Homo sapiens: one gene and its partners. Changing the gene in region 5 together with the main gene of any one other region gives a genetic interaction. Each region holds a gene or a part of one and is shown on either strand. Other genes may lie near its edges. The genes, in order: EXOSC2, CTNNBL1, EXOSC9, UBA2, ZCCHC9 and MPHOSPH6.

The links.
Region 1: changes in ZCCHC9 (region 5) and EXOSC2 together harm fitness more than expected from each alone (negative genetic interaction), as found in Homo sapiens cells (one large-scale study listed by BioGRID).
Region 2: changes in ZCCHC9 (region 5) and CTNNBL1 together harm fitness less than expected from each alone (positive genetic interaction), as found in Homo sapiens cells (one large-scale study listed by BioGRID).
Region 3: changes in ZCCHC9 (region 5) and EXOSC9 together harm fitness more than expected from each alone (negative genetic interaction), as found in Homo sapiens cells (one large-scale study listed by BioGRID).
Region 4: changes in ZCCHC9 (region 5) and UBA2 together harm fitness more than expected from each alone (negative genetic interaction), as found in Homo sapiens cells (one large-scale study listed by BioGRID).
Region 6: changes in ZCCHC9 (region 5) and MPHOSPH6 together harm fitness more than expected from each alone (negative genetic interaction), as found in Homo sapiens cells (one large-scale study listed by BioGRID).

The regions. Positions count from the first base shown.
Region 1 is NC_000009.12:130,696,780-130,700,279, reverse strand, and holds part of EXOSC2 (exosome complex component RRP4), read right to left. Parts: intron 2,699-3,500; coding exon 2,653-2,698; intron 2,119-2,652; coding exon 2,029-2,118; intron 952-2,028; coding exon 886-951; intron 1-885. UniProt on the Homo sapiens protein: Non-catalytic component of the RNA exosome complex which has 3'->5' exoribonuclease activity and participates in a multitude of cellular RNA processing and degradation events.
Region 2 is NC_000020.11:37,732,030-37,735,529, reverse strand, and holds part of CTNNBL1 (beta-catenin-like protein 1), read right to left. Parts: intron 2,652-3,500; coding exon 2,463-2,651; intron 1-2,462. UniProt on the Homo sapiens protein: Component of the PRP19-CDC5L complex that forms an integral part of the spliceosome and is required for activating pre-mRNA splicing.
Region 3 is NC_000004.12:121,804,323-121,807,822, reverse strand, and holds part of EXOSC9 (exosome complex component RRP45), read right to left. Parts: intron 3,202-3,500; coding exon 3,064-3,201; intron 284-3,063; coding exon 201-283; intron 1-200. UniProt on the Homo sapiens protein: Non-catalytic component of the RNA exosome complex which has 3'->5' exoribonuclease activity and participates in a multitude of cellular RNA processing and degradation events.
Region 4 is NC_000019.10:34,455,881-34,459,380, reverse strand, and holds part of UBA2 (SUMO-activating enzyme subunit 2), read right to left. Parts: intron 613-3,500; coding exon 457-612; intron 1-456. UniProt on the Homo sapiens protein: The heterodimer acts as an E1 ligase for SUMO1, SUMO2, SUMO3, and probably SUMO4. It mediates ATP-dependent activation of SUMO proteins followed by formation of a thioester bond between a SUMO protein and a conserved active site cysteine residue on UBA2/SAE2.
Region 5 is NC_000005.10:81,308,087-81,311,586, reverse strand, and holds part of ZCCHC9 (zinc finger CCHC domain-containing protein 9), read right to left. Parts: intron 3,027-3,500; coding exon 2,876-3,026; exon of another isoform or gene 2,642-2,875; coding exon 2,549-2,641; exon of another isoform or gene 613-2,548; coding exon of another isoform or gene 561-612; intron 377-560; coding exon 308-376; intron 1-307. Other genes in the region: ACOT12 (acetyl-coenzyme A thioesterase), read left to right, coding at 561-612. UniProt on the Homo sapiens protein: May down-regulate transcription mediated by NF-kappa-B and the serum response element.
Region 6 is NC_000016.10:82,160,225-82,163,724, forward strand, and holds part of MPHOSPH6 (M-phase phosphoprotein 6), read right to left. Parts: intron 1-3,500. UniProt on the Homo sapiens protein: RNA-binding protein that associates with the RNA exosome complex. Involved in the 3'-processing of the 7S pre-RNA to the mature 5.8S rRNA and play a role in recruiting the RNA exosome complex to pre-rRNA; this function may include C1D.

The DNA of each region.
Region 1 (3,500 bases), on a different chromosome or scaffold from region 5:
TGGGAGGCCGAGGTGGGCAGATCACCTGAGGTCAGGAGTTTGAGACCAGCCTGGCCAATATGGTGAAACCTGTCTCTACTAAAAATACAAAAATTAGCCAGGCATGACGCACGCCGGTAATCCTAGCTATTTGGGAGGCTAAGGCAGAATTGCTTGAATCCAAGAGGCGGACGTTGCAGTGAGCCGAGATCGCGCCACTGCACTCCAGTCTGGGCAACAGAGCAAGACTCCGTCATTAAAAAAAAAGAAAAATTTAAAAAATAACATAAAATAGAGACAGAGTCTTGTTCTGTCACCCAAGCTGGAATGCAGTGGTGTGATCATAGCTTACTGTAGCCTTGAGCTCCTGGGCTCAAGCAACCCTCTGGCCCCAGCCTCCTGAGTAGCTAGGACTACAGGCATGTGCCACCACGCCCGGCTAATTCTTTTTTAATTTTTTTGTAGAGAGGGGGGTCTTGCTATGTTGCCCAGGCTGGTCTTGAACTCTTAGGCTCAAGCAGTCCTCCCTCCTTGGCCTTCCAAAGCGCTGGGATTACAGGCATGAGTCACCACACTCGGCCTGTCATTAATATCTTGACGTGAACAACACCTTCTCCACTCCCTGCGCTAAAAGTTAACACCATTAACAAAAGCCTAGTCTAAAGCACAGGCCACCGTAAGTTACAAGACCCAAAGAAATGACTTAGCAGCAGGTCCCAACAAGAGCTGGGGAGTCAGCCTGAATTAAGGAGACTGAGAAAGGATGCAGCAGAGCCCGACACTTGGTCTAAGACTCGGATCCCTGCAAGGATGACATGGTTCTTCCGTCAGAGACATACAATGGAAGGCCCATTTCCCAGTCCCACAGAAAAGCATCAAGAGGCTGGAGTGCAAAGCGCAGGATACACTGATAAGGTCCCCTTCCTGTAAGAAACCTCTCATTGCAAGCTCATCTTCTGCAGATCTTCTCCTCTGAAATACACAAAGAAATGACATTACTTAAGCCAGATCCTCAGAAAGGTCTCCATCACTTCTCTTTCACTTCCTTTTGAGATGTTTGAGGCCAACCACAATATTCAAGCACTGAGAACTATAGCAAGAGTAGGTAACCCAAGCCACTTGAGGGGAATCAGTGATAATCACGACTTTCCATCTCAAAAGACTTTTCCACAGCTCCTCTTCCTCTTTCCCTCCCTTCTCTGAGGAACATTCAGACCCCTCCCAATCTCACCTAGCCAACATTTCCATAGTCATCTTCCATGACAGCCCTCTGTGGTCCAGCAGGACCAGACTAACTCCTGCTTGGATATATCTCTGCTCATACATTTCCCTTTATCTCAGATTCCCTGAACTAGTCATTCAAAGTCTCTCCATCCTTCCAGGATCAACTCCAATGCCTGTCTTTCCTACAAGCTTCTCTCACTGAAATTTCCTTTTGTATAACCACAGCTTATTTATTCTTCTACTGCCAGGGACTAGGTCAGTTATCTTATATCCCCTGCTGGGGAACTCAATCGTGCTTGGCACTCGGCACAGAGCTTGGCACAGTAAGCCTCTCTGTAAATACACGCTGGACTGAAGATCAAGGTGAACCATGGCATTTTACAAAAGGCTGTGGCTTAGTTACTGTGGTTGTCTGGAATGCCAGCAACCACATTCCACACATGGTTGAATGAAATGCCTTTCAATTCACAAAAACCTAATGTAAAGACAACTTTTCAAGGAACATCTTCACTATGCAAGGCTGTTATATCCAAAAAGGAAAACTGTTAACAACCAGCATCTAAGGGCTTCTCTCCCCAACTCTCTGTTGGGATCCCACCCCATGGATGTTTCTGATCCTACCATATGCCAACTGCTCCCTCTTTCGGGAGACCTGGACAGGGTGAAAAGTCTACATACACATCTAGGCAGCAAACTTCACAGCAGACAAACAGGAGTCAAAGGGGCAACCTCAGTGTAAATCAAAGTCCTCTGGTGGAACAAAGGGTCCCACGGCTCCCCCCAGCCCACTGGGCCCTAGTCCATGGCCCCAGCTGTAGCCCTTACCAGCTCTCCTCCAGGAAGGTTCATGGACGAGAGCAGCAAGACCGAATCCAGCCTGGAGTTGGTCTCCACCTTCCACCTCTTCTGTTGAACCTATAAGCCAAGTTCCACACCTGGACACATGCTCCATGTTCATGTGTCATATCATAAATAACCAGTAAGGCCAGATGTGGTGGCTCACGCCTGTAATCCCAGCACTTTGGGAGGCCGAAGCTGGTGGATCACTTGAGGTCAGGAGTTTGAGACCAGCCTGACCAATATAATGAAACCCCATCTCTACTAAAAATACAAAAATTAGCTGGGCGTGGTGGCGGGTGCCTGTAATCCCAGCTACTTGGGAGGCTGAGGCAGGAGAATCGCTTGAACCTGGGAGGTGGAGGTTGCAGTGAGCCAAGATCATGCCACTGCACTCCAGCCTGGGCGACAGAGCGAGACTCCATCTCAAAAAAAAAAAAACATGAACCAGTAATCTGAAATCGAACAAGCCACATATTTACATCAGAAGCCACACAACGGCCAAATGCAATGAATGCCTTTTTCATGTAACTACAAGTGGAATGACTGTCCCATGAATGAAATCGCCAGCCTGCCTCGACTTTGTAAACACCAATCTGATATCGACGTTACCTCTGTGATTCGTCCCACTACGATGTCTCCTACTTCACCAATGTATCTGAAAGACAAAACACAAGGGGTTCATCCATCTGTGAGCAGACTTTCTGACAAGACCACACACCATTTGAGATGTCGGTTCAACAGGGTGAAAGCCTGGAACAGGCGCCACATTCAGCAAATTCATGTAACTATATTGTCTGGACTTACTTTCAGAAACTGCTAACTTCAAACATTCCTCCACGTATAAAGTCTCCATTAACTATCCTTAGACATATCACCATTCCAAGTAGTTCATTTAGCCCAAAAACCCTATTTTGTTCGATTACACGACAATGAAAAACACGGACTATTTTCCTGTGGCACATGGATGAGTTCTGCACCAGCCAAAGGAAGAGAAAGGAAATCTGAGCCAGGACTCCAACCACACAAGTCTGCTCACGTCTCCTCCACTTACTCACTGCCTGCTCCTCTCAAGCCCCTTTGCTAGTTCCTTACCCGCGATTCTAATGAGACGTACTCAGTGCTGAGGCTAAGTCCTTAGACCTCTTCACTTTTCGGCCACTCAATCTAATACCTTTAAAACACCACTCTGTGCTGTGACTGTGCCACTCTCCTGAATTCCAAATCCTACTCAACTGCTAGCTACCCAACTCTGCCATCTAGATGACTAACAGGCATTTTCAAATGTATCAAGCACAAAACTAAGCTTTCCCGCAGCCCCCTCCAGTCCTCCATAGCAAACCGAGATAGGGGATGAGTTGTCCCCATCTCAGTCAACGGTGACTCCATCCCCTCAGTTGCTCAGGCCAAAAACCTCGGAGAGTTCCTTGATTCCTCTCTCTCTCTCACGCTCCAGGACA
Region 2 (3,500 bases), on a different chromosome or scaffold from region 5:
AGCCATGGGACAATGTTACTTTGCTGAATATATTTCTCAAAGCTTCATCAAGTCCAGCTAATTCTATCTCCTAAGTCTTTCCTGAACTCATCCACTACACACTTAGAATAAAATCCCAAATCCCTCACATGATCTACGTAAGGATCTGGCAGGATCTGCCCAGATAATCTCTCCAACCCCAAACCAGTGCAAAGACTCCCATTGCTAGCCCATGTCTACTTGTTCTCTGGCATAAGTAGACTCTCCAGTGTCTGGCACACAGCAGGTACTCAGTGAAGATCTGAGGAATGGAGGAAGGGAGGAGGGGAGGGGAGGGGAAGGAAGGGGATGAATGAAATTGTTACCTGTTATCTCTCAAGGTCATAGAGATGACCTAAAGAAAGGATGTACATAAAACTACTTTGTAAACTACATGAATGCAAGCTGTTATGGTTATTATCAGCAACAGGCACAATGTACCCAACATACCACTAGAATTTAACTAAAATAATCAAAACATTTCTAGGAAAGGGTTAAATCACTTTCAAGTAAGCTCAATATCTGCTACTTTTTCTTTTCTTAGCTAACATCTTGCCCCACTCTGGAGAAAAACCACATTAGTGTTAACACAGCTCTCATGGGATTTCCGAAGTCCTAGCCTCTCCGGGGTTTGGCCTTCCCTCCTTTAATTTCTCTCCAACACTGGGGGAAAACTGAATTATCAGTCTTAGTCATCAGCCACAGCAGTATCTCCAATAGCTCAACGTCAGAAACCAGAGGGAGATTTCAGAAAGATGAATGCTGATGATGTAGCACAAAAAGGACAATAATATTTTACAAGTTCACGTGACTTTACAGGGGCAAACATCACTTGTTTTTCATCAAATGGGACTTCAGTGGCAGTGAGAAAATAACTCCTGGACTTGTAGCCTTCCATGTGTCATTTTTACAAAGCGATCTCTTTTTCCCTGTCCCTTAACAGACGGGTTGGTCCCACATTACATTTCTGTCTCCCAGGCTAGAAACCACTTACCCATGACAGCTACTATCCTAATCCTCCAGTACCAGCCTTGCCCTACATGGGAATTATACCTGCCAATTAACTGCTGCTGCAGGGCTAACAGATTGAGCAGAAGCTGGTGAGGAGGGAAGGGAGGGAGGATGTGCTACACACACTGTTTGTCTAAGCCCTGGCAAGGCTGCTGCCCTCAGAGAGGAAATTAAAAAATTCAGGACTGTCTCCCACCACGTATTTCTAAAGTGCCATCATCTTTTAGCGGGAGACCCCCAAATTAGCACTAGTACAAATCCTAATAAAGACAGAGCTATTGTCACAACACAGTAAAGACCTTTTTGGAATATGAATCCATTTTTTCTTCTTCTCAGATTCACAGCCAACCTCATTTTGTAATCCAAACTTAGCATCGTGTCTTTGAGAGAACCAAAAAACAGCTGGCTCTTAAGACTCTTATTTCCATAATTCATATTGAACAAAATGCCAGAGTGAAATAACACACAAGTTAACACTTAAAGATTTAAAAAGACACAGAGGTAAGGTCATTTTGTTTTTAATCACTGATATTTTACCTCTACTCTTCCCAGCTTCATTCATTTATTCATTCAATAAATATTTATTAAGGGCCTACCAAGAGCTAGGTATTGCTCTGGGTGCCAAAGATAGAGCTGTGAACAGAACAGAGCCAGTCTCTGTTTTCATGGGAGGCTGAGAGGAGGACAGCAATGAGCAAAATAAACAACTAGAATTTCAAATCATGATACGTGCTATGCAGACAATATACAAAATACAGTAATGAGGAAATGAGAGAATGGCTTGCAGGGCTACATAGGAAAGACTTCTTGGAGGAGGAAACATCTGAACTGAGACCTGAATGTGAAGAAACCAGTCATACAAAGCATTAAGGGAGACGAGCATTCCAACAGAGGACACAGAAGTCCAAAGGTCCAGAGGCAGGAATGAGTGGAAAGGCCCCAACGCATCTTGAGGAACAGCAAAGGGAAAGGCCCGAGGAATCTCCTTCCCTAAGCTGTACTTTTGCAGTCACACCTAAATACCTAATACTGTGGAACCCATTAAACTTCTCCACTTTTGTTGCTTTGCTAATACCATTTTCTCTGCCCAAAAAGCCCTTCCTTCCACTTGGTGAAATTTGACCCCTCTTTCAAAGATAATAATGCAAGTGCCTTCTATGTGTCCTCAGTAAGATCCAGGAAGCCTGCCCTGACCCTCCCCTACAGTACATAATATGGAACAATTTTAAAACTCTGTCACATTCTTTACATCTCATAAGATGCTTTCCCAACTGCACTAGCCCACTTAACCTTCACATTAACGCGATGAAATATGAATTCTTAACCCCATTTTACAGATGAAGATGGGAAGCTCAGACAAGCTTAGTATTTGGCCCAAAATTACGTTTTACAGGGCCAGCCATCTCAGCTCCCACCCAGCGCTGCCACGTTACCTCTTCCTCTTCCTCTTCCCCATCTCTGTCAATAATCTGCAGCAGCCTTTTTTTGTCATCATCCGCTTCCTCCACCACAGTCATTTCTTCTTCCCGATAGCGGCCGCGTTCTCGAGTACCAGTTTGTTTCCGACGCATCTTCTGCTCCTCCTCTTCATCATCCCGGGGACGTTTTGTGCCCCTATTGGGCTGAGAGAAAAGAAACATAAGATTTTAGAGCTGGATACAACATAGAAGCCAGGCGTGGTGGCTCATGCCTATAATCCCAGCACTTTGGGAGGCCAAGGCAGGCAGATCTCTTGAGCCCAGGAGTTTGAGACCAGCCTGAGGCAACATGGTAAAACCCTGACTCTACAAAAAATACAAAAAAAGACTTTGCAAGGCATAGACAGCAAATATCCTAAAAGCTTTCAAGAATTCTCTGACTCAAAAGCATCCAGCATACAACTTCTCCCACCACATGGGGTAAAGCTCTATGTGGTCATTTTTCAGATCCTTAATGATTCTATAAATATACCATGAAAGTCAGTGGGAATTTTTTTATACGCAGTTTTGCCATTTCACAAAAGTTCCTATGTATACGGAAATAGCAACAAAGCTATCTTAAGATGGGGACACTGGGTTAGGCTCACATACTAGTCAAGATATAACTCCCAATGCCAGCGTCTTAGCACCTGGTTTTAATTCACATCTACGTAAGATTACAAAGCCTTTTTTACAGTTACTCACAAATAGTACAAACATAAAATATTACATATGTAACTTCTGAATGTCTACTGTACTCCCAATTCTATTTTACAGAAGAGTTGAGTAAGGCCCAGAGCCTGGGCAAAGGACCTAAATAGACACTTCTCAAAAGAAGATGTACAAATGGCCAGAAGATATATGAAAAAAATGCTTACCATCACTAATCATCAGGGAAATGCAAAGAAAAATCACAATGAGTTATCATGTCACACCTATCAGAATGGCTATCATGAAAAAGACAGAAGATAAAGTGTTGTTGAGGGTGTAGAGAAAAGAGAACCCTGTGCACTG
Region 3 (3,500 bases), on a different chromosome or scaffold from region 5:
TTCATCAAAGTATAAGAGTTTTGTTACTTCTACTGAGAAAGTTCTTTGCCAACTAATGCCCTTACAAAGAAAGAAAGGAAATACAAGGTGCTTTACTATTAAGGGAAGTGTTTGTTTAATATTAACATGACATACTTGAGTAGAGCAATAAAATTCCTAGCTGCATTTGTAATTTTGGCCCATAATAAGGCGAGGCTTACCCTTGCTGGAAAAAGGCAAAACTGACACAAATGGGCATGTGGTGGATACTTAATGGTACAGGATCACGCTCTTCAGGTGTATACTGTTTCAAAAGAAAATGTTTAATAATTATAGTCACTAAGTTATGAACATCCAAAAAAATCATCTTGCACATCAAATACTAAAAAATGAAGTTCCTTTATTCTTTTGAGTACCTAAATAACTTCTTTTAATTAATTACCAGTTTGATTTTGCCACTCACGTTCCTCAAACTGTACAACTTTTTCAAAAAGCTTTTTCAAAAATTTACTGACACATAATTTACATCCCATAAAATCCACTTTTTTTTTTGGAGATGAAGTTTCACTCTTGTTGCCCAGGCTGGAGTGCAATGGCAAGATGTCAGCTCCCGGCAACCTCCGCCTCCTGGGCTCATGCGATTCTCCTATGTCAGCCTCCCAAGTAGGTGGGATTACAGGCATGTGCCACCACGCCCGGCTAATTTTGTATTTTTAGTAGACGGGGTTTCTCCATGTTGGTCAGGCTGGTCTCGAACTCCCAACCTGAGGTGATCCACCTGCCTTGGCCTCCCAAAGTGCTGGAATTACAGGTGTGAGCCACCACGCCCAGCCAAAATCCACTCATTTTAAGTATATGATTCAATTTTTAGTAAATGTATAGTTATGGATACATTTACGGACCCATCACCACAATCTAGTTTTTTAACATTTCCATTACTCCCCAAAATTCCTTTGAATCTGTCTGTAGTCCGTAGGAGTCTGGTGTACTCCCACCCTAGCCCCAAGGAATCACTGATCTATCTTATTTCTGTCTCTATAAATCTGACTTTCTGAGCATTCTATATAAATGGAAAAAAAAAAAGTTGTAATGTTTTGTGCCTGGCTTCTTTCAACTTAGCATGTTTCATGCACCTTGCAGCATTTATCAGTAGTTCAGTTCTTTTCATTACTGAACAGCATTCCATTATTTGTATATATGACATTTTATCTATTCACCAGCTGGACATTTGGATTGTTTCCAGTTTCTGGCTAACAAATGATGCTATGAACACTTGCATTGAAGTCTCTGAACGTAGTAAGCTCTTATTCCTCCCGTAGATTCTTAGGCATGGAATTGCTAGAATTTTTTTTTTTTTTTCTAATTTTAAGCCATTGCAGTTTGTTTTAACATTATAAGGTCGGCTGGGGGCAGTGGCTCACGTCTGTAATCCCAGCACTTTGGAAGGCCGATGTGGACGAGGTTGGGAGTTCAAGACCAGCCTGACCAACATGGAGAAACCCTGTCTCTACTAAAAATACAAAATTAGCCAGGCGTGGTTGCACATGCCTGCAATCCCAGCTACTTGGGAGGCTGAGGCAGGAGAATCGCTTGAATCCGGGAGGCGGAGGCTGCAGTGAGCCGAGATCACGCCATTGTACTCTAGCCTAGGCAACAACAGTGAAACTTTGTCTCAAAAGAAAAAAAAAAAATTACAAGGTCAAACCTGCTGAAAGATGTACATATAAGAGAGTGTTTTCAGCTGGGCATGGTGGCTCATGCCTGTAATCCCAACAGTTTGGGAGGCCAAGGTGGGAGGATCACTTGAGCCCAGGAGTTCGAGACCAGCCTGGGCAATTTGGTGAAACCATATCTCTACAAAAAATACAAAAATTAGTCAAGTGGGTGGCACATACCTGTAGTCCCCACTACTCAGGAGACTGAGGTGGGAGGATTGCTTAAGTCCAGGAGGCAGAGGTTACAGTGAGCCGAGATCACGCCACTGCACCCCAGCCTGGACAACGGAGTGAGATCCTGTCTCAAAAAAAAAAAAAAGAAAAAAAAAAAAGAATATTTTCTTCTACTGTTATTTTTCTGAATATAGAATGCTGTCTACACTTAAAACTTAAGCTACCAAACTTTTCCAACATGGCTGTACCATTTTACATTCCCACTAGCAATAACACCACAGTATTCTTTAATTGATTTTTCAAGTGTAGTAATCGCTTTCTACTTTTTTTCACTTCCTTATATAAACTCCCTCCTCTAAAAGAATATTACCTCTACTGTTAATAAACCTTTGTCCCTATTTCTCACTTTTTAATGGTTCTGCTTCAGTCTACTGCCCAAAATCAAAATTATGAATCATTGCTTAGAAAATCTGGGCATCTGATGTGTCCTTTTGCAACTTCAGGATTCAAACTACAACTACAGTGCACTTTCACTATTCTAGCATGTAATTTATATAAATCAAAACTGACATACTCAGAACAAAAGATAAAGACAACGTAGGTCAATGGTTTTCAAAATGTGCTCCCTGGACCAGCAACATCAGTATTACCTAAGAACTCAAAGTTAGAAGTACAAAATCTTAAGTCCTAGCCCTGTTTTACTTTGGGAGTAGTCTGGCTATACGTTTTAACAAGCCCTCCAGGTATTTCTGATGGACTTTCGTCATCTCTTTGCCTAATGAACAAAAGTCCTGGAGACAAATATGAACCTGCTGATTCCTCAGTGCTTTTCAGCTATTGCATGCCTCTTGCAGGGTAAGCATCTCACTGTGCTGAGATTCATGTATTTTTCACACATATGGCCCCTAAACATAAGTCAACCACTTCATCTAATGTTCAATCCAAAATAGTCATCTAATTCTATTCTGGAAAACCAGGCTAGGGTATGTTCTTACTGACAAATGTTTCAACAGAGGAACGGTTAAGAGATTTCCAGGGCAATTTTGACCATATGCAGTTTCAGTCTTACAAACAAATTTTTAGAAACGACCCAATTGCCATCTACAACATAACTTCACTAAAAACAAGTTGCCTGCACATTTAAGACCCTCCTCATTCATTCATATCAAGGATCCTGGTTCACATAGGAGCTTACCAGTGTTACTTCATCTCCTTGGACAGAGACATCAGGTCTTCGGAAATGACATAAGGCCACGATTGCAGCAATGCTGGCAGCATCAATAATATTTCCATCATGATTTAATAAATGTAGGTCTACACGTATTTGCCAAACCTGATAGTGAATTTAAAATAAAAATAAATCCTAACTGATTACAACCAGTGGCTATTTATCAGGAAAAGTAACATTGTGTACAAATTATTTTTTCTTGCTGTTAAAACACGCAGTTACTCCTTGTACTTTGTCAACAAAAAATATATTTTAGAAAATTTAAGCCAAACATCTGAAATACTATGTGGGTCGTTTAACAACAGAACACATACTTTAAATAAACAGAACCACTCTAACATTTAATACTACGATTTTCCTAACCTCAAATCTAATTACATTTTTATCATGTCTGTTAAAAACCA
Region 4 (3,500 bases), on a different chromosome or scaffold from region 5:
AAAACTCTGCAAGTTACTTATACCCTTTAATACAAAGCTGGTAACTGGGGCTTTGCTCTACTGGAAATGCAAACTTTGCACTGCATGCAAATACTTATCTGCTCACTGCCACAGTGAGGACCATTCAAGGATACCTGTTATTTGTCAAAAAATACAGAATTTACCCACTGCCTGGGAAGCAAAGAGCAAAGAAGTCCTCTGCTTGCTGTGATACTGTGCCACCACTGTGCTGCAGATTCCAGTCAAATACTCCTACTCCATTCTGGGAATGTGAGGCACTTATTCTGGAACCACAGACAGAAAAGCCTGCAGGAATCCAGAAGGCAAAATAACCCAGGAAATCACAGCCACACATCTCTGCAGTTGGACCTTTTCAGAATCAGCAGCTAGTGTTTGTTTGTCATCACAGTAATACTGTAAAAGCAAAAGGAAAAGAGACCCAGGCCTTGCACTGACCTTGTCTTGTAAGGTGAGAACAGTCACTTTATGGACATTCAGCCGCACAGTCACCTCTGGCTTGCTGGCACATACATAACAATTGGGGTTGGGAGGATCCAGTGCACAAGGCACAAGAAGCTTCTTTCTTGGGTTTGGTTGTTTATTCAAAAAAATCTTTGGAGGAGAAATAACAGGCAGAAATCGGAAACGTGCTGTAATTTTATACGCCATACAATCTAAAATCTCGTTTACCAGATATCCAATAAAAAATGACTTAAAAATTCCCGTCCAGATGGCAAAATGGATCAGGAAAATCATGACCTTTTTAGGAACCTGGTTTTTCAACCTTCTTTTTTTTTTTTTTTTTTTTTTTTTTTTTTTTTTGAGACGGAGTCTTGCTGTCGCCCAGGCTGGAGTGCAGTGGCGCAATCTCGGCTCACTGCAGGCTCCGCCCCCTGGGGTTCACGCCATTCTCCTGCCTCAGCCTCCCGAGTAGCTGGGACTACAGGCGCCCGCCACCTCGCCCGGCTAATTTTTTGTATTTTTTTTTTAGTAGAGACGGGGTTTCACCGTGTTAGCCAGGATGGTCTCGATCTCCTGACCTCGTGATCCGCCCGCCTCGGCCTCCCAAAGTGCTGGGATTACAGGCGTGAGCCACCGCGCCCGGCCTCAACCTTCTTTTCTAATCAGCTAAAGGCTAGGCTAGCTAGGCTTGCTGAAAAGACATCTCCTTGTATTATATAAGACTCCGCGTTCTTCTGCAACCTGATTTGGCAAGAGTAAGGGCACAGGCATGTTAATCTGTGGTGCCATCATTGTATCAGCAGCTGGTGTCCCTCCCTGAGGCTATTCTTATCAAGCAAGCAATCTCCTGACAAGACCAACACATTAATTTCTCCAGTTAACGATAGTGCCTTTCACAGTTGTCTAGAATCAACATCACTGCCTTCCCAAATTTTCTGATTAGAATAACATTTATATAATGAGGGAAAAAAATGTATTTCTGGCAGTATATGTACCTATTTACCATTTCTCTAATACTAAACAAAAAAATAATTAAGAACCAAGGCAAATATACAAATTACACTGAAATTAAGAAAAGCTCCAAGCTCCTGCTTCTACTAAAGTTTAGAAAACACTAGCAAGATCCAACAGAAACAACAAATGTCAGAAGACAAGAAGCTGAGACACAAACCTTTATCTTGTGACTACAATGTAGTGTTGAGTCTGCTAAGAGGAATGAATTCTAAAGGAGTACTCTACGGATTCCCCTGAGAATACAGAACTAAATCCCTCAAGAGACACTAAAGCCGTCCTCTGTAAAATAGCTTCTCCGTACAATGAATACTGGTAGGTGGAAGGGCTAGAAGCAAACTGCCCAGGCCAAGCAGGCTACAGAGGGAGAAAGATTTGTTTGATTTTGGGCTTCACCGGGAAGGTAAGTGTGCTAAGGGAAACTGACAATAATAAAAGCAATTGCTACCACTATTAATACCTGGGCTAACATTAATCCAGGCTGGAATTCATTTGCAAATGTAAAAAAATGAAATCCAGATATATTACTATATTTTTTCTTGAGGCAGAGTTTCGCTCTTGTTGCCAGGCTGGAGTGCAATGGCGCGATCTCGGCTTAATGCAACTTCCGCCTCCCAGGTTCAAGTGATTCTCCTGCCTCAGCCTCCTGAGTAGCTGGGATTACAAACATGCACCACCATGCCCAGCTAATTTTATATATATATATATATATATATATATATATATATTTTTTTTTTTTTTAGTAGAGACCAGGTTTCTCCACGTTAGTCAGGCTAGTCTCGAACTTCCAATCTCAGGTGATCTGCCTGCCTCGGCCTCCCAAAGAGCTGGGATTACACGTGTGAGCCATCGTGCCCGGCCAGATATATTACTATTAATAGTCCAAGAGTGGCATGGAGCTAAGCAGGCAAAGAAACCGGAAGGATGTGATGGGAAATAACAGACATTTTAATAAGTTCAGTAATTAGTACTGTTGGTGAGCTCAAAGGGATACTACAGCTTCAGGCTGCTATAAAAAATTTTTTTTAAATAATTTAAAAACTGGGTATCGGCCAGGAACGGTGGCTCACTCCTGTAATTCTAGCACTTTGGGAGGCCAAGGTGGGCAGATCACCTGAGGTCAGGAGTTCATGACCAGCCTGGCTAACATGGTAAAACCCTGTCTCTCCTAAAACTACAAAAATTAGCCAGGCGTGGTGGCACCCGCCTGTAATCCCAGCTACTGGGGAGGCTGAGGCAGGAGAATCACTTCTACTTGGGAGGTGGAGGTTGCAGTGAGCTGAGATCGCGCCACTGCACTCTAGCCTGGGTGACAGAGCAAGACTCCATCTCAAAAAAAAGATACCAAAAAATAAAGTTCTTAGAAATTAAAAATATAACATATACAATAAAAGTTTAAATAGAAAACTAAATCAAGATGGCAGACTGGGCAATTTGATTCTGTTCCTTCAAACTGAAATTTCATGAAAATAAAATATTTTAAGAGTGCATCGAGGCTGGGCGCAATAGCTCACGCCTGAAATCCCAGTACTCTGGGAGGCTGAGAAGGGCGGATCACTTCAGGCCAGGAGTTTGAGACCAATCTGGGCAACAGGTGAAACACCGTCTCTACTAATAATACAAAAATTAGCCAGGTGTGGTGGCATGTGCCAGTAATCCCAGCTACTTGAGAGGCTGAGGCAGGAGAATCGCTAGAACCCAGCAGGTGGAGGTTGCAGTGAGCCGAGATCACATCACTGTACTCCACTGTACTCCAGCCTGGGTGAGAGCAAGATTCCACCTCAAAAAAAAAAAAAAAAAAGAAAAAGAAAAGGAAAAAAAGAGCGCATCGGGCCAAGTGCAGTGGCTCACACCTGTAATCCCAGCACTTTGGGGGGCCAAGGTGGGAGGACTGCTTGAGCCCAGGAGTTCAGGACCAACCCGGACAACATAGCAAGACCCCATCAGTTTAAAAAAAAAAGGCCGGGCGCAGTGGCTCATGCCTGTATGCCTGTAATCCCAGCACTTTGGGAGGCCGAGGTGGGCGG
Region 5 (3,500 bases):
TCTGTAAGTAACAGAATTGGCTCTATTATATTAAATTCATTAGTTAGCAAATATAAATGCTTATGAATCAGGTGTCTTATAAAGTCAGGGTCCCCTAAGGCTTACTGGTCACTTTTTTCCCCCAACTATTCAGTTACTCAATACTATGTGTGTCTATTGCTGACAGAGATTAAGTCATTGCTACAGTAGGAAAACAGGTTGTCTTAAAATCATTAGTATCCCAATTGAGTTATTAATAACAAGTGCAGAATAAAACGCAGAGGAATACTAATCTCACCCCTTCTAAGTAGAGGCCCAGAGATCTCACCTGAATTCTGACTTTCAGGGCAATCTTTCTTTAAATGTTCCACAGAGCCACAAAGTTTGCAACCGCCACCTATTGAAAGAGCAAAGCCACTGAATACCATCTCATACTTGCAAGGGGTTTTTAACATCTCAAAGCACTTTCACATCTTACTGGATCCTCACAACCCTGTCAGTTGTAAAGGTAGCTAGACCAGGATCATAGGGAGGTGCCACTATTCCTATTAATTCATTCTCCATTCCTTTTAACCTCACAGAGCACTAAATTGTACCCACCCACTGCTTCTTGCACCTGGCCTTGAGAAGTAGGAAAAAGAAATGAGATATGATGGAAGGCACTTGTTCAAGAGCTATTGCACAGAAGCCTGGATCTTAACAATGCTTAGACAATCAAGAGTCTGTGAACCCTTGGACCTGTAAACAAAAGATGTAAGCAGATGCACTTTCCTGAATAGCATGTCAGATTCTCAAACAGTCAATGGCCCAAAAACAGATTAGAAACTACTGTTCTACTGTACAGATCAGATGGGGGTAAGCATTTATGAAAGAAATAAAGTTAATTTTTGTTTCAGTGCCTTCCACTGGCCAGGCACCCTAACCCTATAAAAATGCCCACCTGCCTACTTTAAACAACATTCCAGGATTGTGAATTACAACACATGTGGTTTCTAAAATAAGTGTTTCACTTAATGATCAAACACTATTGCTTAATGGTCAAGCATTATCTTGATCATGCTCGAAATGTTAAGTGACTTAGAAAAATGACCTAATCAGATACAAATCTGGCTGAATTTTCTTTTTTTTTTCCCCCAAATCTTGACTTTATTTTTAACATAAAAATGCAAATGTGGAAACCCACCCTACTTTTCCCCCAACATAATGCTTTACCTCTTAAAAATAAAGTACTAATTCTATATACATCAAATGTACCATACAAAAATGTATCCAGTGTTTCTATTGCTACTAAAGTGTTCTAAATTAAAACAAATCGCAGAAAGCCCCTTATTGTAAACAAAAGATTACAAGGTATAAAATCAAGGCACACACAGGCAAATATGGCCAAATTTTCACATCTATGGGATCTACTCTCCTTGCTGCATTAATTTTTTTTTTTTTTTTTTTTTTTACAGCTAGTCACTTTGGTTGACCAGTGAAAGCCATTTTTGCTCACTAGTCATGTTATCTACCCAGTTTTATAAGCTCAAAACTGAAATGCACCTGAGCATTTTCCAGGCCCTGGCCTCTTTATATGCCATAGTGAAAGAGAAGCACTTGAATAATACATTTTAATCCTTATAAAAATTCTTTAGGCAAATACCATAATTCATCAACTCTAAGACACCACTGATTATAAGATGTATCATTATTGCACATACCTCTCAGAAAGAAAAACAGCTGTCAATTATATGGGACCCACCAACGGTAAGATACATTCTGATTTCCAAGAGATTAAAATTGAAAAACTGTGCATCTTAGAATCAATAAAATATAGTTTTATCATCTCCACTCTATAGGTGAGGAAACGGAGATCAGAGTTTGGTAGTTGGCCAAAGCCCCCCAGCTAGTGAGTGGCAGTGCTGGCGCTGTAACCCAAGTCTGACCAACTCCAAAAGCTATGCTTTTTCACTGGACTTCTCCAGGAGGGAAACCCAGGACATGACACAAGAAACGTCTAGAGCCTGATGGCACCAGCCATCACATTAACAGATAACAACCTCCGCCTTAAAGCTTTAGACCGCATAGACTTTACTGTGTGAACCTTAATTACCCGAGTTAAAGAGAAAAAAGCTACATGATCCCATACCAGACAAATAACTAAGAAAAAAAATTCAGAAGCAAACATTACTACAATATTGAATCATCTGTACCCACCCCTCCACCAAAATGATATGCTGGCTGAGGCTGAATATATAATACGATTTTAAAAACCTCATATTAGCTTGAGATATAATCTCTCTGCTTCTGTTATGTCTAAAAGTAGAAATGTATGACATAGTCTCACAAATGATGAAGCAAGCACAGTTGGAAATATACACCTTAGTTTTTTCTGATTTGTTTTATTAACATCTGAAGTCAAATTGCACAAAAAGCCTAGTACATATGATAGCACTTGATAAAAATAATGTAATTCTCAAGGTTTTGCAATTTATTCAAGAATTTATTCAAGAACTGTGATTGAGTGTAAATTAAATCACAACTGCACGATGACTCACCATTTCTGCTATATGAGGGTAACAGTACTTACCATCAGCATAGAGTCCTTTGGGATTATCAGGACAAGATCTAGACAGGTGCCCCATTTCTCCACAAACAAAACATTTTGCAAAAGGAAATTCGCCTGTAAAAATCAACAGTTCCTATTCAGTTGACAATACATATGGCAAGTCATAAAATTAACATTATTTTAAAATACTCTGAATAAAAAATATATTTACATAACTTAAAATTTAATCTCATATGATTTCCAAATACTAAGTGGCACACTCGTAACAAATTGTGTTAAAAAAATACCCAAGGTGCTATTTATTGGCTTTCCCCATGAACAAAACAAAAAACTGAAAGAAACACATACCAAGAGCCGGGTCTACTTTAGCCTTACACTTGGTTATTTCGTGCTCTGTGGACCCACACCTGTAACATATCCCAGTGCCCATGTCTTGATTTTCAAGGGCGGCGGGGCAATCTGCAATTCCATGACCAGGTTTTCTACAATGGAAACACACCTAGGAAAACAAAACGTAGGTTGGCACGCTGCAAAACTATACCAGTGACTTTATTAATTCTTGTTATCAAAAACATATTTAAAACATTTCTCATCTTATTAAGCTATTTTTCTGAAATCTCAATATTTGTAGAAAAAAGCTTTCATACGTTCCTAAACAACGAGATATCCTTTCCATCAGAGGGTTTCATTGCTTTTGAAAACCTCAATCAATAAATCCATAAATCTCAGGAACAATGTTATATATGTGGCTTTGTAGACGGCAATTGCTTAAATGAATTGAGCAAATATGGACTATTCATTTTATTAACTGGAATGTCTGCAGTAGAAAAATGGCATTTTCTATAGGAAATGGACAGTGGCTATAAAAACTGTCACTCAAAATTTGTATTTGTATATAATTATGTACTCAAAATTTTAAAAAATTAATATTTCTTTTAAAGTTCACATAATTGAATGAATTTGGGTCAGACAT
Region 6 (3,500 bases), on a different chromosome or scaffold from region 5:
TTCAAAACTTACCTCTTTTTGTATTTTAATTATCCAATTTTCATTAATGAGGATAATTTTCAGGCTAAAACACACCCACAAAATTATTTCATAAATTTCGCAGATGAGAAACTACTGCTCAGAAAAAGCTGGACTTGCCTAAAGCCACAAATACCATGGCAAAACTCCAGTTAGAAAACCCTTCTCAGTGGGTCTCACATTCCTGCACATTTTTTGAGTGAGGCACTAACTGCCCGGTTGCTCTGGACTATCTTTGCAAGGATATCTGCATAGCGAGCAGCCTTGAAAAACAGTCTTCCTCTAAAGCGAAGGGCAGATTTGCTTACTGTCCAGCATAATACAGATGCCTCTCTTGGGGCCGAAGGCAAGTCTGCTTGTGGTCCGTTATCCAAGGTTCCAGTTTTCTAAGCTCAGGAGATCTCAGCTATGATGCAAATCCACTGGGTGCACAGCATCCACCTGGGCCACTTCACGCCATCCCTCATAGGAGTTGGGGACAAAAGAGAAATGACGCAAACTTGATGCTTGTGCTGCTTGCTGTACAGTAAGTCCTTTGTTTCTGATGGTGTTCAGGAGACACTACTCCCAAAATATGGCATCTTGGCATACTGAAAATTTTACACTGGAGGAATCTGAAAAATGACGTGCAGGTAGGATTTTCTGACTGTCCCCTGAAGCAGGTCATAAAAGCATCTCACATAAGAGGTGCCCTCCCTACACTCAGAGGAAAGCAACATCCTTATCTCAGAAGAAGGGACAGAGAGAGGAATCTGAACAAAAGACTTGCTAAGTTTCTCCTGGCTTATTACTCTTCGTTCATACCCCTTGCTCCCATCATATTTCTTCACAACTTTCCACTCTTCATCAAAGCTAACATAAAAACACTCAGGTTCAACCAGTTCTTCGGTATTCATTTTCTTATGAAGGCTCCTGTGTCACCTAAAACTTTTGTGAAATAAAAGTGTATACCTTTCTCTTTGTTAATCTGTCTTTTGTTACAGGGACCCCAACTAATGAACTTCAAATGGGTGGAAGGAAAGGCTATTGTCCCTCCCCTACATCTCAGACCCAGAAGGTTCCTATCTTCCACCAGCATCAGTGAAAGTGTGGCAGGCTAACTTGTTAGTTTCAGGTCCCTATAGCTTCTGACTCCAAACAGACCACAAAACACAAGTATAAGATGTACAATAGCCAAAAATACTTCTTAAACAACTTGCTACGGCAAAGGAGGAATTAAACTGCCTATACTTGCACACTCTTTCTGGACCATATCCTTGGGGAAAAAAACAATAAGGCAATAGATAGCAAAATCTTTCATCTGGTAAATTTCACTCCTAGGAATTCACACTATATCGGGTTCCCTGGAAACAGACTCTGAGACAGACATATATGCAGAAAACTTAGCAGGCAGTGTTGTTCAGCAGATGCCCTTCTAGGAAAACAGAGAAAGAAGGATTGGGCAGAGGGAGAAGATAATGGGCAATGTGGCTACACTAAGGCCTCAGCCACATATGAGAGCTCTGGAGTCAGGAATGCCCTTCAGTTGTTCCAAGTTGAGGCACAGCAGCTAGATCATCATTCCCCTACATGGTCTAGCCACTGGCTAAAAGTGTCCCCTGTGAGGCAGTGTTAACACTGAATAGCCCTAATTATCTTCACTGAATTACAGACTGATACGGCTGACATTAAAAATGGGAAAGTCGAGACTTTCAGAGCACAGACACATGCAATCTCCAAATTCACAGAATAGTTAAGACAACACTAGCAAAAAAGGATACACAAACATAAGTGAGTAGAAAGGAATGGGTGTACTTCATATATTCAGATATAAGGAAATACACACAATGGTGACAATCACTGTGCTTTATGCCTGGTGTTATGGTGACTGTTTTACATATATTACCTCATCTACTTCTCGGAATGTACTGGACAGGTACTATCATCATACCCAATACACAAATGACACAAAACAGGTTAAGTAACTCACCCAAGGTGACAAGTAAACAACTGGCGGAGCTGGGCATCAAACCCAGGTCTGCCTGACTTCAGAGCCCATGTGCTTAATCAACCAATCCATTCCATGATCTCCCTATTTAGAGTGTTAAAAACAACAACTCAATACAACACGTATACCAAGGACATGTCATCCATTCACCCCTCCAGACCTACTTCCCGTCTTCACCTGTTTCTCTGGCCTGGGAGGCTGACTTGAACGTAATGCACGGAAGGGCTCCTTTGCTGCCAGGTACCTGGCTCCCTTGCTAGGATGACCTTGGGCTGGCCGTACCCGTGAATGGAGGTAGCAGCTCCTGTAAGGTGCTCTCTCTACACAACTTATCTGCAGATTCGGTAGCAGCTATTCCCCACCCACCCGTTGACTCTGCAAGCTCAGGTGGTAATCACTCCCACTACACATGCTAGGAGGTGCTGCACTGCCCCGAGGGGCCCCCCTATGCCCCACCCACACCTTGATAGTCTCTCCTCAGTCTGAGAGTGTCATCTTCTCCTGCCAACATCCTGAGCTGATATACACACCTATACATAAACAGGATGCTGAGTAATGGCAAAAAGGCATTATTTACCTTCCCAGAAAGAAATGTAAAGGTCATTTTCTGGGAATAATATGCTGTATTAGGGGAAAAATACTGGAAACAAGATAGAAACAGTCCTGCTCTTTAATAAACAACTGGAAGGAACACTTTGGCAAGTTTACTTAAGGCATAAAAGTAAATTATAGCTCCAGCAGCAAAGGTCCCTTCCTCCCTGTGACCCTGCCCCTGGCACTATCTTCTCCCTCCTCACCAACATCTTGCTTCCTCTGAGAAGCAGAGAAAAAAAGTACCTTCTCCCGATCCCTCCTGGTGGGACATACTTTCTATCTTTAGAGAAGGGTATCTAACCTTCAAACAATGTCCAGAGGTCAGCCAAATGAACAGGGGAATATAACATTCCAAATCAAAGCCCAAACATCAGGTACAGAATGGAAACACATAAATGTGCCTCAAGACAGTAAGCAGCATCTTCAGTCATTTGACCAAAGTTTAAGTAAAACTACCATACAACAGAGCTTACTAAGGTGAGGAAAGTATCAGGGAAAAATGAAAAATAGCTTCCAGAAGGATTCAGCTAAATTAATGGATGAAATAAATCCAACACTCCTTCATTCAAAATTGTTGATCAGGCACCAGCCAAGCTTAGGGGTGGGCCAGAAACTGTCTACCCCAGCCTTCAGCACTGACTAGCTGGGTGAAGCTGGGCAAGTTACCCTCCCTTAAGCTCAGTTCCTCAACTACAAAGTGACAGAATCATAGGAGGCAGTTCCTAAGTTTGCTACGAAGATTCAATAACTACAGATGTAAAGTGTTTAGCCCAGTTCCTGGTACACACTATAGATTCAGTAAATGTTAGCTAAAATGGATGGTATTACAAGTAGTAACAATTTAAAAGAAGAAACAAAAACTTCTGACCTGCCTTAAAATGCTCAACCTAATGAACTCTGT